Linked DNA regions of Homo sapiens: regions 2, 3 and 4 are each reported to be linked to region 1. Evidence: microRNA targets listed by miRTarBase, many of them from high-throughput screens and not tested one by one. Region 1 holds a microRNA gene; each other region holds the end of a gene's coding sequence.

Evidence for each region. The annotated mature microRNA hsa-miR-187-5p reads GGCUACAACACAGGACCCGGGC and lies in region 1 at 4,189-4,210, shown strand. An mRNA with a match to its seed (bases 2 to 7 or 8) in the 3' UTR can be bound and repressed. Matches are read on the target gene's strand: a 7mer-m8 pairs with bases 2 to 8, a 7mer-A1 pairs with bases 2 to 7 and ends in A, and an 8mer does both.
Region 2: the mRNA of TSPAN13 is a reported target of hsa-miR-187-5p. Seed matches in the 3' UTR shown: 7mer-A1 at 2,542-2,548.
Region 3: miRTarBase lists ZBTB5 as a target of hsa-miR-187-5p. Seed matches in the 3' UTR shown: 7mer-A1 at 1,900-1,906 and 7mer-A1 at 3,701-3,707.
Region 4: the mRNA of USP51 is a reported target of hsa-miR-187-5p. Seed matches in the 3' UTR shown: 7mer-m8 at 3,738-3,744.

What each region holds. Positions count from the first base shown.
Region 1 is chr18:35,901,500-35,909,080 of GRCh38, reverse strand. It overlaps MIR187 (microRNA 187), which reads left to right and starts at 4,155; the gene lies at 4,155-4,263.
Region 2 is chr7:16,781,310-16,788,890 of GRCh38, forward strand. TSPAN13 (tetraspanin 13) reads left to right here. Exons shown (of 6, transcript NM_014399.4): 6 at 2,108-3,227. The coding sequence ends at 2,182. It overlaps LOC124901593 (a long non-coding RNA gene), which reads left to right. Exons shown (of 2, transcript XR_007060228.1): 1 at 1-474; 2 at 875-1,237. Among named protein-coding and RNA genes, the nearest start is that of AGR2, 20 kb to the right of the region's middle.
Region 3 is chr9:37,434,499-37,442,079 of GRCh38, reverse strand. ZBTB5 (zinc finger and BTB domain containing 5) reads left to right here. Exons shown (of 2, transcript NM_014872.3): 2 at 1-3,978. The coding sequence ends at 1,562. GRHPR (glyoxylate and hydroxypyruvate reductase) reads right to left here. Exons shown (of 9, transcript NM_012203.2): 9 at 5,090-5,419. The coding sequence ends at 5,298. It also overlaps the pseudogene CHCHD4P3. Among named protein-coding and RNA genes, the nearest start is that of GRHPR, 16 kb to the right of the region's middle. RefSeq lists an enhancer at 7,040-7,581.
Region 4 is chrX:55,480,972-55,488,552 of GRCh38, forward strand. It overlaps USP51 (ubiquitin specific peptidase 51), which reads right to left. Exons shown (of 3, transcript NM_201286.4): 3 at 3,645-7,581. The coding sequence ends at 5,833. Among named protein-coding and RNA genes, the nearest start is that of USP51, 5.1 kb to the right of the region's middle. RefSeq lists an enhancer at 7,433-7,581 and a silencer at 7,560-7,581.

The DNA.
Region 1 (7,581 bases):
CAGACAGGTCGTAGTAAGCTCTTTCCCTCCTGGAGACACCCAAGGGCCTGCACCCTGGATGTGTAGCCCAGGGTGGGAGTTCTGCCCACGGCCTTCTGGCTGCAGGCCTCAGTCTGTCCTGAGTCTGCCCAGAAGCCCCTACTACCCTGCCTGGGTGGATGCTGTCAGGCCACTCTATGTGGGCTCATTTCTTCCCTGAGATCCAGCTGCACTTCACCAAGGCCACTGGCCATTCAATTAGTAAATTCTCCCCTGGTTTCCCCAAATCCTTCCCCATCCCAGGCTTCTGAAGCTTAGATCCTCGTACAGCCCACACCCTTAACCTCTCTTCTGTCCCTTTCGATGTGAAATAGGATAGCATTTGGCTGCAGGTGACAGAATCCAACCGTGGCCCAAATGGGTGAGGCATTCACTACCTTATGTCCAGTGCTTAGCGCAATGCCTGTTATGTTTGTTAAATGAATACAAGAGTGAGTAATTTCCTTAAATAATAATTCTGAGGCTGGGCGCAGTGGCTCACGCCTGTAATCTCAGCACTTTGGGAGGCAGAGGTGGGTGGATCAGTTGTGGTCAGGAGTTTGAGACCAGCCTGGCCAACATGGTGAAACCCTGTCTGTACTAAAAATACAAAAATTAGCCAGGCATGGTGGTATGTGCCTGTAATCCCAGCTACTCGGGAGGCTGAGGCAGGAGAATCTCTTGAACTCAGGAAGTGGAGGTTGCAGTGAGCCAAGATTGTGCCACTGCACGCCAGCCTGGGTGGCAGAGTGAGACTCTGTCTCAAAAGAAATAAAAAATAAGGAAAAAAAAAATTCGAGAACTTATTCATGAGAAGACCCCTGGCCCTCCACCTGCTACAGACTTAATAACCACAGCGTTCTTTCCCCTCTGCCCCAGCCTACTGCACCCCGCTGCCTGCTGATCTCTTTGTTCCCCTGTCCCGCAGGTGGGCTTCATGAGCTTGAAGCTTTCCTCTAAGCTTTTCTTTCTGGTTCCCATTCTGTTCACTCTGACCTCTTGTTGGCACAAACAAGTCAGATAGCCCCATCTCAGGATGGGCATAGAGGAAGTGATTTGGTTCCCCTCAGGACCATGTTGGGTAGGGTTGAGGTAGAAGATCCCGGGCAGTAAGGGGGGACAGGAGGCTTGTTTTGTCTTCATCTTCCTGCAACACCACCTACTCTCCACTATTTGGGCCTTGGACCTGCACCTCCGTTGTTCCAGCTGAGCTGCCCGTATGGGCCTGGCTTCTGACTTGGGAAAGAAGGCCTGGCCTGCAACACCTGGGAGGATGTGCTGTGAGGCAGGTGCAGGGGGCTCCCACAGGCTGAGGCTCTGTTACCGCCTGGCCTGCATTTTGGTTCCTGGGGAATCTGAGAATCAGCCAGCTGTCTAAGCATCATGCAAGTAAGCAAGTCATGCAGGCAGCCACTCTGGGTCAGCTTCTGGGATTTACTCATCATGACTTGCTCCCTGCTGCGAGGCCAGAGCCAGAGCTCAGGTCTCCCTGTCCTTGCATCAGCACGGGCTTTCTCCCCACTGTCCTAGCTGCCTCTGTGTTCTTTAGTTTCTGAAAATACAGTTCCAGGGTGCCTGCTGCACATGCTTGTAGTCAGAAGTTGCAGATGAGTACTGGGATACCTTCACTTTCTTCAGACAGAACCCAATAATGCAACTCCACTTCTGCTGCCTTTCAAAGGCAAGGTAAGCATGTGCAGAATTCAGTTTCTTCAGAGTTTTGTCAGCAGGAGCCAGCCCCCCAAACTTGGGCACTTGGATAGCATCAGGTGTCTGGACTTGTGAAGCAGGGGGCTGGGTTCTGGGGACTGGGTAGCTTCTCCCAATAGCCAGTAGCGGGCCACTGCCTGGTGGCTCTGTGACAGGCTCTCATTTTTCAGAGGCCGTGTGTTGGGCCCTGAGACAATGATGTGTTAAAAAGTGTACGAGTCCACAGCAAAAGAAACTACCAACAGAGTGAACAGGCAACCTACAGAATGGGAGAAAATTTTTGCAATCTACTCATCTGACAAAGGGCTAATATCCAGAATCTACAAAGAACTCAAACAAATTTACACGAAAAAAACAAACAACCCCATCACAAAGTGGGCAAAGGACATGAACAGACACTTCTCAAAATTAGACATTTATGCAGCCAAAAGACACATGAAAAAATGCTCATCATCACTGGCCATCAGAGAAATGCAAATCAAAACCACAGTGAGATACCATCTCACACCAGTTAGAATGGGGATCATTAAAAAGTCAGGAAACAACAGGTGCTGGAGAGGATGTGGAGAAATAGGAACACTTTGACACTGTTGGTGGGACTGTAAACTAGTTCAACCATTGTGGAAGTCAGTGTGGCGATTCCTCAGGGATCTAGAACTAGAAATACCGTTTGACCCAGCCATCCCATTACTGGGTATATACCCAAAGGATTATAAATCATGCTGCTATAAAGACACATGCACACGTATGTTTATTGCAGCACTATTCACAATAGCAAAGACTTGGAACCAACCCAAATGTCCAACAATGATAGACTGGATTAAGAAAATGTGGCATGTATACACCATGGAATACTATGCAGCCATAAAAAAGGATGAGTTCATCTCCTTTGTAGGGACATGGATGAAGCTGGAAACCATCATTCTCAGCAAACTATCACAAGGACGAAAAACCAAACACCACATGTTCTCACTCATAGGTGGGAATTGAACAATGAGAACACTTGGACACAGGAAGGGGAACATCACACACTGGGGCCTGTTGTGGGATGGGGGGAGGAGGGGAGGGATAGCTTTAGGAGATATACCTAATGTAAATGACGAGTTAATGGGTGCAGCACACCAACATGGCGCATGTATACATATGTAACAAACCTGCACATTGTGCACATGTACCCTAAAACTTAAAGTATAATAAAAAAAACCACACACAAAAAAAGTGTATGAGTCCTCTGTTGCTTCTCAGGGCCTGATGCAGTCTTAGATCATGAGTGCCCAGCCTGAGAAAGGAGTTTGGAGGGGAAAATAACTTATTTGGAGAACATGTGCCTGTATAGGTCTGCACAGACTCAGATATAGTGGGGAGTACCCTGGTCAGCTGGGAAGAGCCCCTCAGTCTTTTAGACAATTTAGGAAGAGAAGGGATTTCCCTCCCTCTAAATTGTTCAATTTTAAGTTCCTGTACAAAATGTGGGCATGATATTGTTATCCCTCTTCCTTCTACTTTTATCTTCTTTTGTTGGTAGAAAACGATGTGACACCTAATTTCTACACTTCTGTTTAATGTCCCATCTGGGCTCAAAGTCTACAGCCTTCCCAAAAGATTCGTTGAACAAAACTGATGGGTCCACTTTACTGAAGCTAGAAATAAGGAGAGCAACACCGCCGCTTACTCCTCATTCCCACAGCCCAGGAATTCTGTGGAGCTCAGCCAAGGATTGCGCGCCTCGGGGAGGAATCTCAACAAGTCACCTTTGGAGGGACTGAAGTTGGGACGCTTTTTGGGTTCTGGGCCTACCGCGTTTTATTTTGTAAAAAAAACCAGAAATGACTCATCCAAAATAATCTGCAAAAAAATGATATGTAGGAGTTTTTGAATAAAAAGAAACCATAAATAAGTAATAAATCCTTCAGAGGCCTATAGGAAATGGATAGCAGTAATGTTGTGTTTACTGCCTTACTCCCAAAGTGCAGATATTTATTATAACTCAGGGCAATTCATTGTACTAGCTTGGCGTTTACAAAATTCTCATCATAGTATTAGAGTAGGAACCCATTTCCTAGGAAGTATTGTTATGATAAACTGTAATTAGTGGCTTGTAAACAGCCATAATTCATTGTTTAAAGGAAAAGGTATGTGGACAGTGAAGTATTTGCGTGCAAAGCCCCTCACCTCTCTGAGCATTTCCATCAGGCTCGCTGCTCACCTGGAGCACAGGTCATCTATGCTGCCCCGGGCAGGACTCCTCGCCCATCACAGCCAAGACTCCTCAGGTCAAGGCCTCTGCTGAGCCCCAGTCCCAGGACCCTCTACTGATGCTGACCTCTGTTCTTTTACAGCTTCCTCATCGGGATGCACAGCAAGTCGGATTCCCCAAGCAGAAGCTGGGCAGCCCACCTGGAAGAGGAGGCCAGGCAGGTGCTGCAGGTCGGGCTCACCATGACACAGTGTGAGACCTCGGGCTACAACACAGGACCCGGGCGCTGCTCTGACCCCTCGTGTCTTGTGTTGCAGCCGGAGGGACGCAGGTCCGCAGCAGAGCCTGCTCCGCTTGTCCTGAGGGACTCGACACAGGGGACTGCACAGAGACCATGGGAAAGTCCAGGCTCTGGTGGGCAGGTGGGTGGGGTGTTGGGAGAGAGGCCGACCCGGACCACCCCAGGTGTCACCCATTCAGCCCCCTTTTTTGTCCTAGTTTCGTCTCTCCGTACACAGCTTGGCTCACCTCTGGCCCAGTGCAGGTAGCTGGTGCTGGCTGCAGGGTGACACAGCCTACTTTGGGTCTGGGCTTTGAGGATGCCTTCTGCTCCTCACCTCCGGTCCCCAGACCAGGTGACTGAGACTCCACAATGGGGGTAGGAGGGTAGCAAGGAAGGCAGTTTCTCCCCAAACATCTCTCCCATTGATGAGAAGCCCACCACTGGACCGCCTCCAGATCGGAAAAGCATTGCATTTTTAGGAGTTGTCTATTAAAATGTGAATATTTTCTGCAAGGTGGGAGATTAAACCACTGTAGGCATTAGCTGGTTTCATTGAAGACATTACTGCCAACATGACAGAGACTCCAGAAGGAAATGAAATCAGATCATGAACTCCCAATAGGGAAGAAGCCCCAGAAGAGGACCCTAAAACTGGAGGTGAGAGGTGTGAAAAGCAAGGTTCCTTCACCTGTGCAGGCTGTCACAGCACTGGGGTGGGAGCTTGGATGCAGGGTCCGCTGAGTGACTCTGCCTTCACAGCTGAGGACTATGGCTCGAATTTCCCCAAAGAGCCTGCTCTTGGGGCAGCACCCTTCAATCAGATTCAGATGAGCCCCTGGCCCCCAGGACTACCTGCATGTTACTTTCCACACCAACCCTGTGTCCTAGATAGAAAGGATCCATTTATTCCCTTGCTTTTCACCAGCCTCATGGTGTTCACAGTGCCTCCTCTTTTACAAGAAATGAGCTAGTTTTAAAATGTAATTGGTGCAGTGTTTTTCCTTCTCTTGAATGATCTGGAGGGAACTAGCATAAAATGACATTTTATGGTCATTTTAGGCTGCACTTAAGTGAAAACTGAGGGGAAAGCCGGGAAGTTGAGCGGATCGAGATGCAGGGAAGGCTCTGGGTCATGTGTCACCATCATGGCCTGAACAACCCAGCAGGATCCACTACAGAACAGATCAGGTTAAGGCAGACATGCTGTCTTCTGTGTGGGAAACCTGGAAACTGTCTTTTTTTTTCTTATTATACTTTAAGGTTCAGGGTACATGTGCACAATGTGCAGGTTTGTTACATATGTATACATGCGCCATGTTGGTGTGCTGCACCCATTAACTCTTCATTTAACATTAGGTATATCTCCTAATGCTATCCCTCCCCCTCCCCCAACCCCACAACAGGCCCCAGTGTGTGATGTTCCCCTCCCTGTGTCCATGTGTTCTCATTGTTCAATTCCCAACTATGAGTGAGAGCATGCGGTGTTTGGTTTTTTGTCCTTGTGATAATTTGCTGAGAATGATGGTTTCCAGCTTCATCCATGTCCCTACAAAGGAGATGAACTCATCCTTTTTTATGGCTGCATAGTATTCCATGGTGTATACATGCCACATTTTCTTAATCCAGTCTATCATTGTTGGACATTTGGGTTGGTTCCAAGTCTTTGCTATTGTCAATAGTGTCACAATAAACATACGTGTGCATGTGTCTTTATAGCAGCATGATTTATAATCCTTTGGGTATATACCCAGTAATGGGATGGCTGGGTAAAATGGTATTTCTAGGTCTAGACCCCTGAGGAATCCCCACACTGACTTCCACAATGGTTAAGCTCGTTTACAGTCCCACCAATAGTGTAAAAGTGTTCCTATTTCTCCACATCCTCTCCAGCACCTGTTGTTTCCTGACTTTTTAATGATCCCCATTCTAACTGGCGTGAGGTGGTATCTCATTGTGGTTTTGATTTGCATTTCTCTGATGGCCAGTGATGATGAGCATTTTTTCATGTGTCTTTTGGCTGCACAAATGTCTTCTTTTGAGAAGTGTCTGTTCATGTCCTTTGCCCACTTTTTGATGGGGTTGTTTGTTTTTTTCTTGTAAATTTGTTTGAGTTCTTTGTAGATTCTGGATATTAGCCCTTTGTCAGATGAGTAGATTGCAAAAATTTTCTCCCATTCTGTAGGTTGCCTGTTCACTCTGATGGTAGTTTCTTTTGCTGTGCAGAAGCTCTTTACTTTAATTAGATCCCATTTGTCAATTATGGCTTTTGTTGCCATTGCTTTTGATGTTTTAGACATGAAGTCCTTGCCCATGCCTATGTCCTGAATGGTATTGCCTAGGTTTTTTTCTAGGGTTTTTATGGTTTTAGGTCTAACATTTAAGTCTTTAATCCATCTTGAATTGATTTTTGTGTAAGGTGTAAGGAAGGGATCCAGTTTCAGCTTTCTACATATGGCTAGCCAGTTTTCCCAGCACCATTGGTTAAATAGGGAATCCTTTCCCCGTTTCTTGTTTTTGTCAGGTTTGTCAAAGATCAGATAGTTGTAGATATGTGGCATTATTTCTGAGGGCTCTGTTCTGTTCCATTGGTCTATATCTCTGTTTTGATACCAGTACCATGCTGTTTTGGTTACTGTAGACTTGTAGTATAGTTTGAAGTCAGGTAGCGTGATGCCTCCAGCTTTGTTCTTTTGGCTTAGGATTGACTTGGCAATGCGGGCTCTTTTTTGGTTCCATATGAACTTTAAAGTAGTTTTTTCCAATTCTGTGAAGAAAGTCATTGGTAGCTTGATAGGGATGGCATTGAATCTCTAAATTACTTTGGGCAGTATGGCCATTTTCACGATATTGCTTCTTCCTATCCATGAGCATGGAATGTTCTTCCATTTCTTTGTATCCTCTTTTATTTCATTGAGCAGTGGTTTGTAGTTCTCCTTGAAGAGGTCCTTCACGTCCCCTGTAAGTTGGATTCCTAGGTATTTTATTCTCTTTGAAGCAATTGTGAATGGGAGTTCACTCATGATTTGGCTCTCTGTTTGTCTGTTATTGGTGTATAAGAATGCTTGTGATTTTTGCACATTGATTTTGTATCCTGAGACTTTGCTGAAGTTGCCTGTCAGCTTAAGGAGATTTTAGGCTGAGATGATGGGGTTTTCTAGATATACAATCATGTCATCTGCAAAAAGGGACAATTTGACTTCCTCTTTTCCTAATTGAATACCCTTTATTTCCTTCTCCTGCCTGATTGCCCCAGCCAGAACTTCCAACACTATGTTGAATAGGAGTGGTGAGAGAGGGCATCCCTGTCTTGTGCCAGTTTTCAAAGGGAATGCCTCCAGTTTTTGTCCATTCAGTATGATATTGGCTGTGGGTT
Region 2 (7,581 bases), not on the chromosome of region 1:
ATATTCTACATGTACTTTATTTTTCTACATACATTTTCATGTTATGAGCAATATATTTTGGTGACCTACTGCACACTGAGTGTAGGTTCTAGAGACCGCAGAGTTGATGACATCTAATCAAAGTTACCTTTGAAAAGTGCCCTCTTAATCATGAGCACTTTTGTAAGCTTGAAGTTCAATAATTATCCAGTTTTGATCTTTTTGCATTTTGGATGTAGCCTTCCTTTCTATCCCTCTCTGAACAGTCGGGCAAGGAAGGGGAGAGATTTTCCCCTTTTGGCGCTTATAGCCAAGTTGGAGGAATACAATTCTGGTAAAATGTGGCTCCGGATTATGAGTATTTAGTTTGTTTGATTGCTTTCTTCCCCCAAGGACTGTGATTTACCCTCTCAGCATATATCCAGGGGTGATAGTCAAAATGTTAACATCCTCAAAAATTCTGACCAGAAGCTCCCTGTGCTGAAAATTTCCAAGGTGGGGAGCTTTGGCAAGTGATATTTGGGCAGGTTGAGGTGGGGCGGGGGGACTCAAAGAAATAGTTGTTTAACTACAGATATGTAAGTATTTCCGTGTTGTAACAGCTAGTGTGGCTGAGAACAGCCAGTGACATGTCAGATTACCGAATAAAACCACAAAAGTGGGGTAGTTTATGGGCTCCAGGTTTGAACATGGGCTCTACCACTGAGGACCTGTGTGATTATTTTGTTTAACCTCTTGTTGCCTCAGTTTCCTCACTGGTAAAATGACGATATTGATAGTATCTATTTTGTGAAAGCTATTGGGGGGATTATATGAATTTGTAGTTTGTAGAATGGTACCTTTCATAAAGAACTCTTTGTTATGTTTGTTAAATACATTTCTTTTTCCCCATTAGATGGATTCCAAAACAGATGACTTTCCACATCTTCAAATCAGGCTTACCTTTCCTTGATTCAACCTGCAGACCTCAGTCCACCAGCTATAAACACTGCCAGTTATGAATCTTACAGTAATTTGTGGATTCTTATTGTGGTCAGTGGAGAGAATCTGGGACTTACCTAACTCTCTAGAAGTAGTTTAAAAGGGCTAATGGTGGCTACAAAGTCACATAAACAAAATTTAGGTTAAAAGTTGGCACACGTATAAAGTGGGAGATACAGTTTAAAACTCATTTTATTCTATTAAAATTTTGTATCTTTTTTAGCCTAAAGAGTTACAATTTTCATTTATTTAAAATAAACCAACTTTGAAACAGAAACAGAGCACACATTTCTTAATTTAAAAAACTATACTGGCTAACAATTTAGCGAACTTGGTGCGGGAAATGGCACAGTAACAGCTTCATCTCTTCCTACCAAGAGAGGTAGGAATTATAACATTTTAAATTTCTGTGTTGGAAAATTTATTCATTTTAAGATTTTTTGCTGTTACTTAAATTTTACTGAACTTAGTTTATTCCTGAATTATCAAAATATATGCTATTTTAGCTATTTAGACTACTTTGACTTTGTATTAGTTTTCCATATTTCTGCTGTAACAGGTTACCACACACATAGTTGCTTAACACAACACAAACTTATTGTCTTACAGTTTTGGAGATCAAAAGTTTAAAATAAAGGTACCTTCTGGAGGCCAGGCTCACCAGCCCTCCTTTTACATCTTCAAAGCTAGGAGAGTTGCAGCTTCTCTTTCTATTTCCCTTTACTTCTGCCATCACGGTGTCTTCTCTCCATGTTTCTGACTCTGTCCTTCCTGCCTCCGTCATATGTGTCCCCCTGTGATTATATCATTGAGCCCACCTGGGTAATAATCTCTTTATCTTGAGACCCTTAACCACACCCGCAAAGTCCCTGTTACTGTGTAAGGTAACATATTTGCAGGTCGTAGGGGTTAGGACATGGACATCCTTCAGGGCCAGTCATTCAGTTTACCACAGTGTTCGTTTTAATTTTTTCTCAGCGCCCGTCATTTGGTTTACTTCATTTCAAAAAGAAAAAAAATCTCTCCCCGTTGAACAAAAGATGCAAAGCGATTGAGAGGGTCCAAAGTTATTTTATTGATCAACTGAATAAATATACATAAATGTTACTTTCTTTTTCTTTACTTTATTTTTTTTTCCCCATTCCAGATCCTGGGTGTTTGGCTGACCTACAGATACAGGAACCAGAAAGACCCCCGCGCGAATCCTAGTGCATTCCTTTGATGAGAAAACAAGGAAGATTTCCTTTCGTATTATGATCTTGTTCACTTTCTGTAATTTTCTGTTAAGCTCCATTTGCCAGTTTAAGGAAGGAAACACTATCTGGAAAAGTACCTTATTGATAGTGGAATTATATATTTTTACTCTATGTTTCTCTACATGTTTTTTTCTTTCCGTTGCTGAAAAATATTTGAAACTTGTGGTCTCTGAAGCTCGGTGGCACCTGGAATTTACTGTATTCATTGTCGGGCACTGTCCACTGTGGCCTTTCTTAGCATTTTTACCTGCAGAAAAACTTTGTATGGTACCACTGTGTTGGTTATATGGTGAATCTGAACGTACATCTCACTGGTATAATTATATGTAGCACTGTGCTGTGTAGATAGTTCCTACTGGAAAAAGAGTGGAAATTTATTAAAATCAGAAAGTATGAGATCCTGTTATGTTAAGGGAAATCCAAATTCCCAATTTTTTTTGGTCTTTTTAGGAAAGATTGTTGTGGTAAAAAGTGTTAGTATAAAAATGATAATTTACTTGTAGTCTTTTATGATTACACCAATGTATTCTAGAAATAGTTATGTCTTAGGAAATTGTGGTTTAATTTTTGACTTTTACAGGTAAGTGCAAAGGAGAAGTGGTTTCATGAAATGTTCTAATGTATAATAACATTTACCTTCAGCCTCCATCAGAATGGAACGAGTTTTGAGTAATCAGGAAGTATATCTATATGATCTTGATATTGTTTTATAATAATTTGAAGTCTAAAAGACTGCATTTTTAAACAAGTTAGTATTAATGCGTTGGCCCACGTAGCAAAAAGATATTTGATTATCTTAAAAATTGTTAAATACCGTTTTCATGAAATTTCTCAGTATTGTAACAGCAACTTGTCAAACCTAAGCATATTTGAATATGATCTCCCATAATTTGAAATTGAAATCGTATTGTGTGGCTCTGTATATTCTGTTAAAAAATTAAAGGACAGAAACCTTTCTTTGTGTATGCATGTTTGAATTAAAAGAAAGTAATGGAAGAATTGATCGATGAATTAAGTGAGGTGGAATTCTTTTCTTTCTGCTTTAGCTTCTCTCTGTTGGACTTAGAGCTGGGTATTGCTATTTTAGTGTATAATCAAGCTGTGGAAATAAATTTCCAGCATTAATGTCTATTGGTAGTCATCCTCAAATCCTTTCTTGAAATGTTTCAGTGGCTAATATTATCTCCATGGTGAGAAAAAGTTTTTCTAAAAAGAGAAGCCATTAATATTTATTTGGGAAAAATATATACGTTCTTTCCCATTACGAAAAATTATTAATTTCTTGTTTTACATTCTAGGTAGCATGTGGTATTTTATTGTCTTACTAGGTTTTTAGACCGAGAGAGGGTAAATGGTTGATCTGTAGAGTTTTAGAGCATTTTGTAGGTTTGTCACTTCCGTGACTTTGCAACACTAGCTAATTTTCCAAGGAAACAGAATTGTGCCATTTTCACAATGTCCTATGAGCTCTGGGGTAGCCCTAACAGTGTCCCCACTTATACCATAAGATGGGATTATAAGTGACATATGAAGGGAGATTTTATTATTATTTTTTATTATTATACTTTAAGTTCTGTGATACAAATGCAGAATGTGCAGGTTGTTGTTACACAGGTACACATGTGCCATGGGGGTTTGCTGCACCTATTAACCTGCCATCGAGGTGGGAAGTTTTAAAATTCTGTCTTCCTTTAAGGCATTTGGCATTTTCCATGTTTGTTTTGTTACATTTTGAAATTATTATAAGGCCCTGGAATCTCCTAATGTAATACTTTCCTTGGTACAAATGATTATATGTGGAAAGGCTATTCCATAGAGAATCAGCCCTTACCTTGGTTTGTGCTCTAATTGCAGTGCCCTTATTTGGGTCAACACAGTATGCTTCATGCTGAAGTTAAATGATGCATCCTGGAAATTCTAACAAAGGAAGGTCTCTTCTTCTGTTCAAATATAGATTGACTGATGTCAGCCTTCCTCAAGTGTGTTACTTAAAAAGCAAAGTGCAAAGAGAACAGCTGTCAGGGTGAGAAGTCTAAACACATTTTTGAAAGTAGCCTGGTGCTGACAAAATGCATTTAATCGTGCTCAAGGCTTCATGAAATTGAGTTCATTAAATTAGGATTTTAAATCATTATGGCTAAGAAAAACATGTATATCTAAATATTAAATAAAACAAAATGTAAAGATATCTAAGATGTTAAGATTTTAGTAAAATAAGTTAATGAAAAAGAAAGCCAGGGTCTGGGAAGTATGAATATTTAGGACTACTAAACTATGGGATTATAAGAGTGGGTAATGACAGTTAGCCACTCAAGAAATACACATTTTCAAGCACCAAGGTTGTCCTTGTCAAATGAGTCTGGGCTTTCTGTTTTCTCTGGCAGATCTGAAGGTGATAGATTACCTAACACCTTCTGTGATGCTTCCTGGGATCTTTGTGTCGGGGTGCATATTTAGTGGAAAACCCTCTGAATAAGTCAGTCCTGAATCCCAGATGGCCCTGCTATGATCCTGCAAAGGTCATCCTGATCCCAGGATTAGAGAGGGCCACTGCCCAAGGGCACAGAAATGCTGCCATAAACACGTAGTGTCAGAGGAGGATGAGTTTCAGATCAGGGTAGACCCTAGATGTCCTTTCTTCCCAAACCTAGCATTTCTTTAAAAAGGAACTGTGCTGCTTAAAAAAATCTCTTCTCTATTTGCACATTCCATTTATAGGAATGTTTTTTGGCACATTTGCCCGGTCAGCCTTGATGTTAAGGGTTAAATTTTATATAGAGAATATAATACTAATACAAAGGAAGAAAGAGTTCAGCTATAATTTCTAAAATCTGAGCTTGTTGTAGCTTAAATTCATCTCAGATACTCTGTTATCTAAGCAACAATGTGTTTGGTATGAAAACCAGTTTCGCATGTTCAACCTAAGTTACATGCTGCTGAATGGAACCTTTCATAGAAGGAAAGGAAACCAGAAGTGTGGCTTTTAGTTCTTCGTTTCCTTGAGCCAAAACCTCCTCCTACAATTTTTCTAAATATTTGTTTAACTCTGTTAAAGTTTATTCATTATTTTGCAAATACACTAAATACGTCAAACTGTTTCAATTTTTAGCTGGTACTAAAAAAGTTAGAATCAAATTTTTCCATAGTATTTCATAGGAGAAAAACACTTTTAGTCACTGTGGTTGTACAGACATGATCATTCATGTGTGAATTGTTTTATTAGAGATGACAATAAAGTTAAAAACCAGCTTTTCCAGGGTTCTGGATAAGTGAAGGGATTGGTGTAAAGTTTTGTTCTGTATTTGGTACGTTTTGGACTAAAATAATTTTTAGACCAGGCTTTCTGTGCCAAATGAAATTACAATATGTGTTAGTGAATGTGTTCTAAATAAATTTAAGAGTGCAATCCACCCTTTCCCCAACACCTCCACTCCACGAGAAGAGGAGAGGGAGAGAAGGGAACGGGGCTTGTCATGTGGATGTTTTTCTTAAATGTCATAACTGAGCAATTGTAGTCATTGAAATACCTCTTGAAAATATGAGAAAGGGGAAAATCAAACTCTGCCATGTGGCAGGCCAATTCTCATCACTCTCCTTAGGAAAACCAGCTTTTGGAATTCATTTTCAAATGAGGATTTGAGGCCTGTGAGTTAAAATATATGTCAAAGAATGGACTTTGACATCACTTGGGGGGTGAAACCACTTTGCCTACTTTTAGGATCTTGCTTTTCATAGATCAGGGAGTCATAACTTGACAAGTAGCCTTTTAATAGGTTAAGCTGACTTGACTTGGACTTTGAAGTCAAGGTCCTTGAACTGAAGGAAGTTCTATTCTTGCCTTAGAGCTTTTAATGATTTTTCTCCTGACTGGTATTCTTATCAGTGATTGCTAGTTAGAGGGTTCTCAGTAGACTACTTAGAATTGCTGAATTCAAGAAAGAAAGAAAACAGATTTAGACAGTCATGGAAGATCACTTGAAGAAGACTGTTGTTCCGAAATTGGTAAAAATGGTTTAATTAGGCATGTTGACCGTCTGTGTAAATGACGTTTACAGATGATTTATGTTAGCTACATTTTTTTAACAGTTAATTCCTGTTTTTTTCTCCCTAAGCTATTGAATCTCAGATAAAACTGAAATTTTTGTTATTGTGGTAAATACATATAGCATAAAAGCTATCATTTTAACCATTCATAAGCTTGTAGTTCAGTGGCAGTAAGTACATTCATATTGTTATGCAACCATCACCACCATGCATTTCCATAACGTTTAATCTTCTGTACCCATTAAGCAATAACTCCTCATTCCCCTCTTCCCCTGGCAACCTGCACTCCACTTTCTATATGAAAACGATTCTGGGTACCCCATATGGGTGAAATTGTATAGTAGCTGTCCTTTCGTGACTGGCTTATTTACTGAGCATAATGTCCTCAAGGTTCATCCACGTTGTTACATATGCCAGAACTTTCTTCTTCTTTTTTTCCATTGACATGGGGTCTTGGTATGTTGGACAGGCTGGTCTTGAACTCCCGGGCTCAAGCAGTTCTCCCACCTCCACCTCCCAAAATGCTGGGATTACAGGCGTGAGCCACTGCGCCCAGCCATGAATTTTCTTCAAGATTGGATAATATTTCATTGTATGTATATGTCACATTTTGTTTGTTCATTCATCCATTGATGGACACTTGAGTTGCTTCCACCTTTTAGCTATTGTGGATAATGCTATGAGCGTGGGTGTATAAATATCTGTTCCCTGCTTTTAGTTCATAAGCATATACCCAAGAGTGGAATTACTGGGTTGGATGGTAGTTCTGTATTTAATTTTTTGAGAGACCACCATATTGTTTTCCACAAAACAAAAATGGCTGCACCATTTTATATTCCCACTATGTTATTAACATTTTTATTTGGCTGTTTGAAATAGCACTCTTCAGTCTTCTAGTACTCTTCTACTTCTCTGTAGTCAGAGAAGTAGTCAAGATATACTTTCACTTGAAATTTATTTAAATGCAAATGATAGATTGTGAGATGACAGAAGAGGGATTTGGTAGAAAGAACAGACATTGCTAATATTTCAATGAGTTTAGAACAACCATGTTTGTATCTTCTATTTTTTTTTTTTTTTGGAGACAGAGCCTCTCTTTGTCACCCAGGGTGGATTGCAGTGGTATGGTCTCAGCTCACTGCAACTTCCGCCTCCCTTGGTTTCTCATGCCCCAGCCTCCCGAGTAGCTGGGATTACAGGCATGGGCCACTGTGCCCGGCTAATTTTTTTGTATTTCAAGTAGAGTCGGGGTTTCTCCATGTTGGCCAGGCTGGTCTCGGACTTCTGGGCTCAAGCGATACGCCTCCCAAAGTGCTGGGAT
Region 3 (7,581 bases), not on the chromosome of region 1:
TCAATTCCAGCCAGAATGGCGAGGAGCAGCCAGCCCCCATGAGCTCTTCCATGCGCAGTAACCTGGATCAGCGCACGCCCTTCCCCATGAGACGCCTTCATAAGCGCAAGCAGTCTGCAGAGGAGCGGGCCAGGCAGCGCCTCCGACCCTCCATAGATGAGTCTGCCATTTCAGATGTTACACCGGAGAATGGGCCTTCAGGGGTTCATTCTCGGGAGGAGTTCTTTTCACCAGATTCTCTGAAAATTGTGGATAATCCTAAAGCTGATGGAATGACTGATAACCAGGAAGATAGTGCGATCATGTTTGATCAGTCTTTTGGCACTCAAGAAGATGCCCAGGTGCCCAGCCAGTCTGATAACAGTGCTGGCAACATGGCACAGTTGTCCATGGCCTCTCGTGCAACTCAGGTTGAGACTAGTTTTGATCAGGAAGCTGCACCTGAGAAAAGTAGTTTTCAGTGTGAAAACCCTGAGGTTGGCCTTGGTGAGAAGGAGCACATGAGAGTGGTGGTTAAATCTGAGCCCCTGAGCTCACCTGAGCCTCAGGATGAAGTGAGCGATGTGACCTCACAAGCAGAAGGCAGCGAGTCTGTGGAAGTGGAAGGAGTTGTGGTCAGTGCCGAGAAGATAGACCTCAGCCCTGAAAGCAGTGATCGGAGTTTTTCAGATCCCCAGTCTAGCACAGACAGGGTAGGTGATATCCATATTTTGGAAGTCACAAATAACCTAGAGCATAAGTCCACTTTTAGTATTTCGAATTTTCTTAACAAGAGCAGAGGAAATAACTTTACTGCAAATCAGAACAATGATGATAATATTCCAAACACCACTAGTGACTGCAGGCTGGAGAGTGAGGCCCCCTATTTGTTGAGTCCAGAGGCTGGGCCTGCAGGTGGGCCCTCCTCTGCCCCTGGCTCCCATGTAGAGAACCCATTTAGTGAACCTGCAGACTCCCACTTCGTCAGGCCTATGCAGGAGGTGATGGGCCTGCCGTGTGTGCAGACTTCAGGCTACCAAGGAGGAGAACAGTTTGGGATGGACTTTTCCAGGTCTGGTTTGGGCCTCCACTCCTCCTTCTCCAGGGTAATGATAGGTTCCCCAAGGGGAGGAGCCAGTAACTTTCCTTACTACCGCCGCATAGCTCCCAAAATGCCAGTTGTAACTTCCGTCAGGAGCTCACAGATCCCAGAAAACTCTACCAGTTCTCAGCTAATGATGAATGGAGCTACGTCCTCATTTGAAAATGGCCATCCTTCCCAGCCTGGCCCTCCACAGTTGACCAGGGCATCTGCAGATGTTCTGTCAAAGTGCAAGAAGGCCTTATCAGAGCACAATGTTTTGGTTGTAGAGGGAGCTCGCAAGTATGCCTGCAAAATCTGCTGCAAAACTTTTCTGACTTTGACAGATTGCAAGAAGCACATCCGTGTTCACACAGGTGAAAAGCCTTACGCCTGCCTGAAGTGTGGCAAGAGGTTTAGTCAGTCCAGCCACCTGTATAAGCACTCAAAGACTACCTGCCTGCGCTGGCAGAGCAGCAATCTTCCCAGCACTTTGCTCTAGCTGTTTGTCCTTACAAGACAACGCTGAGGCCAGTTGTCAGACTGAATTTCTTTTGGTAAGCAGTTAATGCCTTTGGGTTCGAGGCTTCCAGCTGCCCAGTGGCTCTTAAACAGTTTAGCAACTAATAACCGGAGAACTAACATGTAGTATTTGTGCTGCTGCATTTCTGAGTGAAGTGCACGTCTTGGGAAAGGGATGCAATCCCTGAAACCAGGTGCTTCCTTGGGGTTGAGTAATGCAGTCAGAAAGTAGTTTGTAATTGATATTAAAAGTGGCACATTTAAAAATTTAAAAATTGAAGTGCAAAAAAAATTTTTTAGCAATTTTTGTAAAACTGTGTAGCATTTAAATTTCCTATACCTTCTGATGGGAGTATTATATCCCTGTATAGTGATGCAAAATGCACTTATGTGTAACCAGTGGTGATTTGGTGCCTGTCTTAAAGGAAGGCCTTTGAGGACACACCTGTCTGCCACAAATGCTTTAAAGTGTATCATGAGCTAGTCCTAGGCCTCAAAGTACTGTATTTTTTATTTTTACCTGATTTGCAGTCATAAACACTGCACTTTGGTGCTGACACTGGGTCCAGAGTGAGCATTCTCTTGGACTATTAGATGTATATACTTTTGAATACATCACTGTTGGATAGATGTTTTAACAGTTTTTTCTGGTTTAAAAACCAAATTGTAAATGGAGTGTGTACTTGTAGAGAGTGACAAGGTATTGTTTCCCTATGTGCTGTTTGAGCAGTATTTTAACCAACTTGTATTACAGATGTTACAGTTCCATGTTAGGAAGTCAGAAAAGACTTGTGTTTGTCTTTGTTCTGCTGATGTGGAGTCATGTTTTGTGGGGTCTTCCATGGCACATTTACCTGTTGCTCCGTCCAGATGTTGAGGGCCAGTCTAGGCTGACACATCCTACCCGAGGACAAGCCTGTTCTCCATTTCTTCACTCTCCCCTCCCCATATAGCAACTCTCCCAGGTTTAGATTACCGTTTTCGACGACAGATTAACCAAAAATGCCCCACACAGGTTTTATTACTGTTATATACTATACTTTTAACAGTACAGACCCTAAATTTTATTATTTGTTGCTCCCCCAATCTGATACCAAATGTTTAAAGTTGTTTGAAATCCAAACATGGTAGTGTTCATGGGTAAATATTTTCTAGGCTATGTAAGAGTTAGCAGCCCATAGCATAGAAGTAATCAAGTAGCATCTGAGACTGTTGGAGGCACTAGGGCCTCTCTGGGCCCTACAGCCTCACTTCCCCAGCCTCACCTTGCTGTCCTCTGACACTGCCATCAGGGCTGTTAGTGGCACCTGTATGAGGCCAAGTGTGCGTCCAGGGGAACAGCACAGGTTAATGCGTCTCCCTAGAACTCATGAAGTCAGTTTAATTCATGCATGAACATGAGTTCATTTTATGTTTTATATAGCTTTCTTAGACATACCAAACCATCATTCATAAATCAGATAAATTATTCAGTTTTTGTGTTTAGAAAGCTAAGTATGTGTAGCTGGAAACAAAAATGAGCGTGTTTTCTCTCCTGTTAATCTAGAGTGTGCAGTTACACATGTGTGGATAATTTCATGTTCCAGGGGCGCTTGGCATCTCCCATGGACTGATTCCCAGGAAGAAAAGCCCAAAGGGAAACCCACGATTCCTTTCGAGTAGATGTGGGAAAGAGCCCATTGGAGGATATGAGGTCCTGTGAAATTCAGTTGTGTGTGTGGCTCCTTGTTAGCAGTCATGTTGACATGGTGTTAGGAGGCTCCCCATCCACCCTTTACATGATGTAGGGACCAGTGTCTTGTGAGATTAACCTTGGGACACAGTGGGTTAGCCTGGAGAAAATGAGAGGCCCTGCCTGGACCCAGGGAGAGGAGCCAGTGACACAGGCAGAGCGGTGCAGCCCTCCTTCCCTTCCATTTGGAGGAGGTGGTGCCAGGAGCCTGCCCGCTTACCTCTGCTGAAGCATAAGTGGACTTTGCTTTTGGGGCTTATCTCTGATACATGCTGGAGCCCTGCCTCTCCACTGCTAGATGGAACCTGGAATCTCTCATCTACCTCTTAGTCTGTCAGTTTCTACGTGTGAGAAGCAAGCTTGTGGGCCAGTGTCCTTGTACATGCTGTAGCACTTAAAAAATAATTCCAGGGTTCCCTGGAAAACCAGTCCCAGGGTTCCTATGATCTGTAGTTTCTACCTGGATTATAACTGGTTTTGGGTACCTGAATTTTGATTGGTTAGCCTTAATTATAGTCTGGCGTGATCATGTAGAATCTTTTCTGGTGAACAGATCATAAAGTTCTATCAAGGAGTTCTATCAAGGCATCCATGTCAGTGGTGCTATGCTGGTTACAACTTGAGATTTTTGAAATAAAAAATTTGTCATATTCATGCCTCTAAATATGTGTTCTTTTTCTTTACGTTATTAAGGTTGAAACCAAAGAGGGTAATATCTCTTTGCCAGCCCTTCTTTGACTAGTACTTTGTTTTAAACCAAACCTTCTATTAACAGTTAATTGGTCGTTCCTCTCAAATCATTCCCTTCTGCCTTCCCCCGCCTTTTCTGTCTTTGAGCTACGCACATGCATGAGATTTTGCTTTTCAGTCTACCCAGTTGCTCTCTGAGGGCCTGCGTAATCTTGTGCTGCTCCCTGGACCTGCCTCCCAAGTTGGAAACTCCATCTGCCAGTTTGGCTTGGCTGCTGGGAAGAGCTGGAAGCTGATTCCTTGAGCACAGAGCAAGGCATTGGCAATGGCAGTGCTGTGGCCTGACCTTGGAGAGAAGTGGGTAAGGTGGTGATTAAAAAAAAAAAAAATCCACCTGGGGGCAGGGAGGGGCTGGGGGGACAGAATGGGCAAAGGGAACAATATGTGTAGGTGCTGAAACTAATTTTAAAATTAAACCCACCTACCTCTAATCGTTCTGACCAAAATAAGAGTTACGTCCTTACCTAGTTCTCATTTCTTCCAGTTAACTCCTTTTCTGGAAGTGCTCCTTAATTTTCCTGATGGTCTAGGTATCAAGATTCAAGTGCCATGGTCACAACTGGGTTCTGTTTGTCCCGTCCTTGGTGAGGGACAAGTGAAGGAATCTGGGCAGAGAAGATGAGGGGTAAGGTGGTTTGGACACGTTCCAATAAGGAAAATGCCCAGGGCTGAGGGCTGGGGTGGGAAGCAGAGCCAGGCAGATCATTGGATGCTGTGACTTTGAAACATGCTCTTTGTATTTTTAAAGTTTTTTTTGAAACGGTGTCTTGCTACATTGCCCAGGTTAAGTGTAGTGGTGATTTAAAGAGTGATCATAGCACACTGCAGGAAACGGTATCTTGCTACATTGCCCAGGTTAAGTGTAGTGGCGATTTAAAAAGAGTGGTTATAGCACACTGCAGCCTTGAACTGGCCTCAAAGGATCCTTCCCGCTCAGCCTCCTGAGTTGCTGGGACTATAGGGGTGCGTCACCATGCCCAGCCATATCCACTTGTTAGCTTCCCCATTTACAGGCCAAGACGGTCTCTCAGAGAATTATTTAATAATAGAATTACCATACTTTTGGCGCAAATGTGTCCAACACCAATGTGACAAGTACATATATCAGAATCACTCTTTCCTCAGAGAATCACACCTTCCCTTGGCTCTGCCTGTGGATCCAAATCAAGCCTGGGTGTGTCTGACAATACCAGGGCACGGTTTGCTTCCCGGCCCTCCATCTCTACTGTTTGGCTACAGCTTGAGTTCACTAGGCATCGGCTCCCCTCTCAGGCCAGCCAGCAAGTTGTTAGCTGCCAACAAGGACATGGTGTTGCGGGTTCTGTGGGTGGCACTGCCAATGTGGGGCAGAATCACTGGAAAGGAGAGAGAGAGAGAGAGGGAGATAAGAAGGGTGGTTCAGCAGCCTTCAGCTGGGCTGTTTTCATGGCTTGGGTTTGCCGGTAAGAAGAATAAAGAGAGACTACCTCATGGTTCCATGCTTTGCCTTCTCTCCCACCTTCACTAAGCTTGACACTCCCCCAGAGCTGAGGTTCAGACTAACAGAGTGAAGGGCCTCCAGGCTACTAAAACCCAGTCACAATGTGATGAAAGATTTGTATTCTAGGGCTGGGCGCAGTGGCTCATGCCTGTAATCCCAGCACTTTGAGAGGCCAAGGCAGGCAGATAACTTGAGCTGAGGAGTTTGAGACCAGCCTGGGCAACATGGCAAAACCCCGTCTCTACAAAAAATACAAAAATTTAGCCAGGCGTAGTGGCCCACACCTATAGTCCCCGCTACTTGGGAGGTTGAGGCAGAAGGATTGTTTGGGCCTGGGAGGCAGAGGTTGCAATAAGCTGAGATTGCACCATTGCACTCTAGCCTGGATGACAGAGGGAGACTCTGTCTCAAACAAAAAAATGGTGAACGCATAGGAGTTTAGCACTGGCCACCTGTACCATGTGCCCTTGAAAATGATGCCACATGACCACAAGGTTTCTGATCTACAGAAATAACTCCAAAATGAAATGCTGAACAGCACAGTTATCTCTGATCCCACCCCAGAGCAAGTGAACTTACTTGCCCCCAAAGAACCGTCAGCTGGGTGCAGTGGCATATTCCTGTAGTCCCACCTACTCCAGATGCCGAGATGCAAGGTTCGCTTGAGCCCAAGAGTTCGAGGCCAGCCTGGACCACATAGCGAGACATCATCTTTACCAAATAAACCCCATAAAACTGCTTTTGGGTTTTTTCCAGGTAGAAATCATGTTTCCTTTTAATTGAGTACATTTTCTTCTTTAAATTTTATCATTATTGTAATAGGGTCTTTGTTGCCCAGGCTGGTCTTGAACTCCTGGCCTCAAGTGATTCTCCTGTCTTAGCCTCCCAAAGGGCTGCGATTACAGGTGTGAGCCACTGCGCCCAGCCATAATTCAGTACTTAATTCACAGAGTTTCTTCTCCTCTCTGGTAACAATTAGGTCCCCTCCTCTCAAGAACATTGCATCTGATCAAACTGAGAGCCAGCATGAACATGGACCCCAAACCAGAGCTTTCAGAATAACAATGAACAGCAAAAACCAGCCTTTCCCTACACTTAGGAAGGGACTGTGAATGGCAGGGTCCAAATTTTCACCATCCAAATAGAAAACCCGGAGCTGAATGCCAACATGGAAACCAAAATATGTCAGGAATGAAGTATAGTACCCCTTTACATACTCAAGGTCAGGATAGGTTTGGAGAAATTTGCATCTGACTATTTGGCCTCTTCTAGTAGAGAAGAGTTTTTGAGACAGGGTCTTGCTTTGTTGCCCAGGCTGGAGTGCCATGGCATAGTCAGCTTACTACAGCCTCAACCTCCTAGGCTCAAGTGATCCTCCCACTTCAGCCTCCTGAGCAGCTAGGACTAGAGGTACATACCATTACACATGGCTAATTTTTTATTTTTTATAGGGATGGGGTTTCACTATGTTGCCCAGGCTAGATTCGAACTCTTGGTCTTAGGTGATCCTCCCGCCTTGGCCTCCTAAAGTGCTGGGATTATAGGCGTGAGCCACCCTAATCAGCCCCACCCCAACGTTTCAGACATATAATGAATCAGAATAAATCCGCTCACTCACAAGAAACATTCCTGGATAATGGTTTTTGGTTGCTGAGATTGAGTAGCACATTATTTCAAAGTGGCAAAATTCAGGGCCATCTAGGAGAATTCAAAAGTGGTGGCTATATTTGCCGACAGGTTTACACAGGACACATATAAAACAACCCCCATTTTTTTAGCGTATATGTCAAGAGGCCAAGACCCCGATCATCAAAATATGTTATTTCGTACATTACAGTTTACAGGACAACAGAGGGAAAGACACTTTGTTGGAGGGTGACTAAATGGCATTTTGCAAAAGGTCCGTGTCACTCTGAAGGGGTGGAAGGACTGGAGTCCTATGGCCTTCATTAACTTGACCCCTCCTCCTCTTTGGTTGCAGTGGCCTCAGTGGGAGCTGCTACTTCTACATGTTCTGCGGGCTTTTCCTCTACCTCT
Region 4 (7,581 bases), not on the chromosome of region 1:
ATATGTAGATAGCAAGCATTTTGCTATCCACCAAATGCTTTACAAAGACTGTTAGTTTTAGTCTCCTCTACAATCCTTGGAGGGCTGTGCACAAGACTCTGTTACTGGCCCAGTGTTGCCAGTTAATAAATGGCAAATCTGGGATGTGATTTCAGCTCAAGTCTTTCTGGTGCCTCAGTCATCTTCTTCCTAGTTAGGCCTCACCACAGGTACCTCATCATAAATAAGTAGAAATCATAGGCCAGTCAGTTTAATTCTCTATTAAAGGGTTGGTGAGAAAGAGGGTTCAAATTGTAAGTTTGCATATAGAATACAGGTGTGTCTTTAAGGGGACTCTTTTAAAAACAGATCAATTTAGGGCATGGTTAGATTCTGGATAAGGCCTCATCTGCATACAAAAAGGATTTTCTACACCTGTCCTTAGATACCAACTTCTCTGATACATTTAAAACATGATACAGTTTTTAAAAATTTGATTTTCTGTGCAATCCCTTCCTCAACTCCACTTGCTCCACCTCTAGCTGCAGTCCCTTTCTCAGATTTGGCATACCCTCCTGGTATAAGGGAAGGGGAAACTGCTCCTAAACGGTAGCCAACATGGCAACATTATGATCTGGATTTTTTGGGAAAGCTTTAACTTCAAATATTCTGTGATTGTTGTTCCGTTATCTGCAAATATCATATATCTCTTTACTAAATGGAATAAAGTAGTAAAATAAGGAATTTTGAAAAAATAAGTCATTTTAACTTAAGCAAAAGTAGTTTCAACAGAGTGGTGCAAGCAGAAACCAGAATGCAGGGAACTAAAGATGGAGCAGGAGGTAAGTGAAAATAATGTATGAAAAAAACACATGTGAAAGAGTTTGGCAGTAAAAGGAAGGGGAGCAAAGGTAATGTATTTTTCTTTTAAACATGATCCCCAAATCTGGATTTTAAAACAGACTCTTGGGTTTCTTCTGGGGATAATATACACTCAGGAGAAGTATTGGGATTTGGAATACTTTTTTTATCTCTTACAGAGATGATGGGACAACATTTTTGAGGAACTACCATAGAAAATCTAGGATGTCTAGTTGCTGGATTTTATCTGTCTAGCAAAAACATGGCTGTTACTAGAATAGAGGGAAGTGTGTAGGAGTAAGGCCCTCTGACTGTTAGGAATGGACGAGAAGAAGGAGGCTAGTGGGTGAAGCTTCAGAAAAGAAGCAGTATTCCTTTTCCTTTGAAATGACAGTGAAGGCATGGAGGATGGATGGAAACTTAAGTGTGTAGATGTGGGTAAATCAGGCATTCTTATGAGATTTTTGATTTCAGAAAAATAGGACATGAAGTCACCTGCTGAAGCTGAGGCTTAGAGTGTAGAACGGAATGTCTTCATTTATTCATTCATATATTCATTCAGCTAGCATGTTAAGTACCTGCCATAAACTGTGGTAGGCCTGTGGGATTTATAAACACATAGGTCCGGCCCTAGCCTGGAGTAGCCACTACTGTGTGTTTGGAAGAGAATCAAGGTAAAGGAAATGAAAGTAATTCAGAAACAACAGAAGCTGTACATTACAAATCAGTATTGGACCACTTGGGTAAGGTCCCAATAGGTAAGTCCCTCCCCGGGCTCGTTGGAGGAGCTGGTGTTGTGGGCATTTTGGGAAGATCTGAGGGAGAGGGGTGATAAAAGTGACACTCAAAGTGATGGCTATGGTGTTGAAGTTAGAAAAGAAGTCTTGTATGGCTAAAGAGCTGATGGTTTTACAGACCGCAAAAACATGAGATCTTACAGTCACGTCTTGGGGCTCAGCCTGGCATATAGCATTGAGTGAGGCTATATGTCTTATATTGGGGGTAATATTTTGGCTTCATCCATCATGATTATCCTTAGGAAAGTCATTTAGCCTGATCTATCTGAATCAGCCATTTCCACAGAAACAAATACCCCTGTAGCATGGGCAACTTTGTGTAGTAGATAGGTTACTCTCTCCTTGCAGGTTACCTGCATCCAGATTTGTCAGAAGCTGCCTTCTGTACCACGCTGGTTTATCCTGTCTTCCATAGCAAAATCAGGAAAAGCAAAAATATATATATTTGAATTATCTATACTGGATTATGATGGGACATGCATGGGCTTTGGGGACCTGCATTTGAATACTGGCTTCACTGATTAGAACAGTAGAGTGAACTTAAGCAAATCACTTTTCTATTCTGATTTTCACTTTCCCAGTTTGCGAAATATGTTCAGTAATGATTGTCTCCCAGAACTATGAGGACCCAGGACCAAGTGAGATAATAAAGGTAAAGCAGTTAACACAGTGCCTGATTTAAATCAGTACTCATATAACATTATTGCTTTTTTTCCCTTTTATTTGGAATAAGCATTTCATTACTGTGAGTAAGGTTTGAAGTCTAGCACAGGTCAGTGGCTGAGCTGAAACTTGCTTCTTAAAGATGTACAGGGACCCACTATAGTTTCTTAATTTTATATGATGAAGTTCATCCAAGGTCACTCCTCCTTCCCTTTTCTCTCTCATGCTTTGTGGTCTTAGGAACTGATGCTCCACTAATCATATAGCTTGGTTAGTATGTTCAAGACCCTTGGCTGCAAATGACAGGATCCCAACTGACAACTAGCTTAAGCAAAACAAAGGACTCTATTGGCTCAGATAGCTGGGAACTTTGGCGCTTCTGGCACAGCTGGATCCACAAGGTTCAAACGATGTTCCCTGGGCTCTTTCTCCCAATCTCCAGTTCTTTCTGGTTTTCTCTTTGTGTTATAGATATTGACCTCTCAAAGTCCCAGAATCAGGTTATCATAGCATAGTGACTACAGCTTGGGGGTGGGATCAGGAGGGAGACACGTTTTTTCTTCCAGTGTCCACATACCTTCAATTTAGCAACAGACTCTGATTGGCCCTACTTGGGCCCTATGCCCACCCTCAGAAGAAATGCTCCTGTGGGAGGGGTACTGGTAGAGGGACAGGGGAATTGAGAACTCTAATCTGGCCCAGCCTGAGTGATGTGCCCACTTGGGGAGGGGTGACAGAGGCAGGGAAAAGTGATCAGTAGCCCCAATAGGTCCACAAAGAATGGCGGGAAAATGAGGGTGCCGAGCAGAAAAATAAACTACAGCTCTTCAATAAACACTGTTACCAGACATCACTCCCTTGTAGTAGAGTGATGATGTGCAGTGTGATGAAGAACACTGTGCAGTGATGAGGTACTACTGTCTCACGGGGAAGGTAAACTAATGTGGTAAACCCTAGAGAGGTGTGGTACACAGTTGTGAGACACTGCTGCTGAGGAACACTGTGATGAGGGGCAGTGTGGCCACACACATGCCAGAGAGCTCAGCCTCACCTTCAGCTGCTGCTCCTCATCCCCACCCAGTCTTCCATGACTGCCAACTTCCAGGCCTGTGCTCTTTTCTCTGCATTGTACCTGGGCCTCCCTCCACACACCTGGCTATTTCTCACTGAGCACCTTTCTTAAGCCAGCCCCTGCAGCTGAGTGCTTTTCATATCCTGCTTTGGGGTAAAATACAATACTGATCACACTGTAGTATAGCACTGGGCATTTAATGGCAGCCTGATGGATGAAGGGGTGAGAAAACATTACTGACAAGGTGAATAGAGCAAATAACTGAACTCATCTTCACATTTAACAAATATTTATTAACACAGAAATGAATAAGGCTTGGCCCCCTGTTCTTAGATGCTCAGTGCAGAGGGGCAGACAATCACAAAGCTACAATAAAATCACAGTAGAATAAGTACTATCACCGAGGTATGGACAAAGTACTTTGGAGGCACAGTGAGAGGAATAAAGAGGGGAAGAGAGGAACAATTTTCTCATTTATACCTGCCTAGAGCATTCAGGGAAGACTCCAGAGAAGTCATCTGTGAGTTGGGTCTTGAAGGAGGAGTAAAAGCCACCAGGTGAATAGTCAAAGAAGGAGCCCTGCAGGCTGGGGCTCAGAGATGTAGGTAAGGCCAGGTAAGTAAGGGGTTCAGGGAACTAGGCATGAGTGACAAAAAAAGGAAATAAAGAGGGAATAAAGAATGAGCAGAAGGACTGCAAGCACAAACCCATTGCTCTACTGTGGAAATTAAAGGTCTTGTTTCTCCTTGGAGGGGGAAGAGGGAAAAAGGAAGGTGGGAAGGCCTCAGATATGGGTCCCTGCCACTTCCTCAATCAGGCCATGGGGCTCAAATACCAAAGCCAGAGCTTCACAGCTGTGATCTAACTTCTCTAAGCCACCAAATTATCAAGAGCCCCTTTTCAGAAGCTAAGAATTTGTATGAATAATGCAGTTCTAAATGGGAAAGTCCCTAATGTTTTCATTTTTCTCAGATGAATTGATTCTGCCTAGGAAGTAATTTGACTTCCTTCAGGATATGAGATGGGGCATGGAATCTCAAGAGGGGAAGGTGGGTTAGTTAGTGTTTAGGCCTTGCAGCCATTTCACAATTGGATGGTAAGATAATGATTAAAATGTCTATTTCCTTTTCCAACGTATATTGATATATCAACATAAAGCTCAAAAAAAAAAATATATATATATATATATACTCACACACCGCTGTCGTTATTCCTGTCTCCTCCATTTATTTCTTTCATACCCGTCTGTATTTTAATATGCTTAAATAAAAAAATAGAACTTCTTAAACTTTTAATTTTAATAATTTTTTCTACTTGAATCTTTCACATTTTTTCACTGGTCAATTTTTATGTAACTGTTTTTCTTTTTAAAAGCTTAAATTTTTAAATCTTTATTTAAATATTTAAAGTTTTCATTTAAATCTCTTGAACTTATCTAAGGTTCTTTTTATTTTACAAGTCTCTATTTTCTTCCTGTATTTTTTCAATTTTTGTCTTTAAACACATTTTGTCTTTTTGTCTTGAATTATTCTAAACTTGCCTCTTTTAAAACTTTTCTCTAAAATCTGAATTGCATTCCATTCTGTATTTTTGAAAATTTATTTCTTAATCATTATAGTAGTAATTTTGTTAACACTTTTTAAATACGTATATTTTATGCTTTAATTTTGAAATATCTATTTATATTATTTTCCTTCATTTGAAACTTTTAAGATGTTCCTTTGTTTCTAACTTTAATTTTTAACAGTATTTTCTTCCTTTTTTTGGTAAACTTTCATTTTTAACCTTGTTCCTTAATTTATTTTACATTTTTAAACTTTAAGAATTTAATTTTCTTTGCTTTTAATTTTTAAAATTCTGAAACTTCTTTAAATTAAAAAATTATTTTTAACTTTTAAAATATTTCTTTTAAAAATAACAACTTAAATTTTTTTCAACATTTAAAAGTTTTTTTCTTTTAAAATCTTAAAAATGATTTTTTCCTTTTTAAATGTTTTTCTTTTAAAGCTCTTTAAACTTTATTTTAAAATATTATTTTTCTTTCAAACTATTTAGCTGGTCAGCCACAGCTGGAACACCAATTGTGAAGTTTTTGCTGATAAAGGAATACTCCCTGACTTCACAAGATATTTCTGTAAAAACAAATGACATAGAGTAGCATCAGAACACTTCTACTCCCGTTGTCCCCACCTAAAGCATTCTTTTCATTTCATTATGCTTTATGTGACCATTTTCAACCTCTTCTCCCTCTCCCCATTTCTTAAGGTTGAATGGTCACTGGTTAGTATTCATTTTTTTCTTCCGACAGACCCATGGGCCATGCTAAAATAGGTTCTTTATATCAAGATACTAGCTGTCACATAGGTGTTACTGTCATTGTCCATTCCAAGTAGGTCTGTGTGTCACTTCAAAATCCTTGCCTAATCATTTACTTTTTTTTCAGTAAGTGGTCTGGTAAGACTAGTCTTTCTCTAGACCCTGTTTGTGATAGAACAGTAAATACCCTTCACTGTAGAGTAAGTCCTCAATGGTAGCCTTGGTGATGATGGCATCATCACAGCTGAACCACTGGTCCTTTTGTTGCCGGATGAAGCTGGTATAGTGGCCACTTTCCAAAGTTCCATGGTGATTAATCACTGCAAACAAGGAATACTTATTCTCATTGGGCACACAATCTGTTGGTGGCTGGCCTTCTTTCATTCTGCTCTCTTTAGTAGAGGCCAAAAACGGAGTCATGTCCAGCTCCAAGGGAAAGGAGATAAAGGTATTAATCTTTCGCCTCTGTTTGCCTACATGCTCAAACCGCTTGAGATGAAAACAAGCCACAATGGGTAATTTTTTCATTGTGAGCTGTTTAGTAGACTCCTGGTAGCTTTGGCAACTATTGCATTTGATTTTGGCACTGCTTCCTAGGTGCTCTGGCCTTGTAAACCACTGTAGACAGTCTGTAAGTGAGGGGATTCCTGGTATGTGGTCATCCCTGCTCACTGTGCTGTCAGCCCTCTCTGGGTTCTGGGAATCGAATGTGGCACAAGAGCCAGGCAAGTCCAAACTGATGTCCCAGCATGGGTCTATGGTGGTAGAAACACTATGGCAGGCTTGACATGTGACATCTGATTGCAGGCCACCTGTAAAGATTTGGTCTATGATGCAGTTACAGCAGTTGGGGTTATTGGCCTCCTGCCCACCACTATCATCTTTGCTGTGTCTATGTAGCACGTCTAATATTGCAATAAGGAACTCATGGGCATCCTGCTGCCTGTACCCTGCTAAATGTTCTGCATGGATCCATATCAGATGCAGTAACTTATAGGGAATGTGAGGAGTTCGGCTCCCAGAGTACATAGCATGAAAAAGCGAAGACATTTCACAGACCAGACACAAGCTGGGGCTTGTCATTATACATTTGTGCTTGTCAGAGAGGAAGAAATCTTTCAGTAGAGGAATATGGGTAAGTGCCTGGACAATACAATTCATAAAACAAGTGTTCCCAAGATTGATTAGCCCTCTCAGGCCTACAGTATAGACTGACTTTTTTCTTCTCTTTTTCTTGGGTTTCACCAATTTTGGCTCCTGTTCCTTTGTCTCACAGGTTGATTGCTTGTCTTCAAACCCTGATGTCATAAACTGTTGATGAGAAACATCTGTTGAGGTGGAAGTTAATAATCTCAAAATTTTTTCTTTTGTTTCTTTGGCAATCTGTTCTATGTCTTTGTCATATACATAATCCTTACACATGAAGCAATATATGACCCCATGATAAAGGTCTACAGCTAAATGGTGCTGCTTTGTTTCTGCATGTTTGTGAATATGTTTCTCAGTGAAGCAGCCAAAAAAGACACAGGAGAGACAAGAGTGGAGTCTGTTCATATGGGTACTACATACGTGACAGATGCATGACTTTGCTTTACGTTTCCTAGTCTCTGGGGTCCCACTCCAAACGAAACGCTGGTAGATCAACCTCAGGTTCTTCTGCCAGTTCTTACCTACTTTAAAGCTCTCCACATGAGAGCAGCCTGTGGGACCCTGACCAAACTCGACCTCCAGCAACCAGTCCCCTAAGCCGCCAGGATCCCCCGACCCGTCTAGGTCACCAGAGCAGCTTCTCCGTGTCTGAGGCCTGGACCCAGGCCGGGATCTGCGCCGGGATCCACGCCAGGCCCTGGGCCGCGGTGCGGGTGGGGGCGGGGGTGGCGGCGGGGGCGGGGG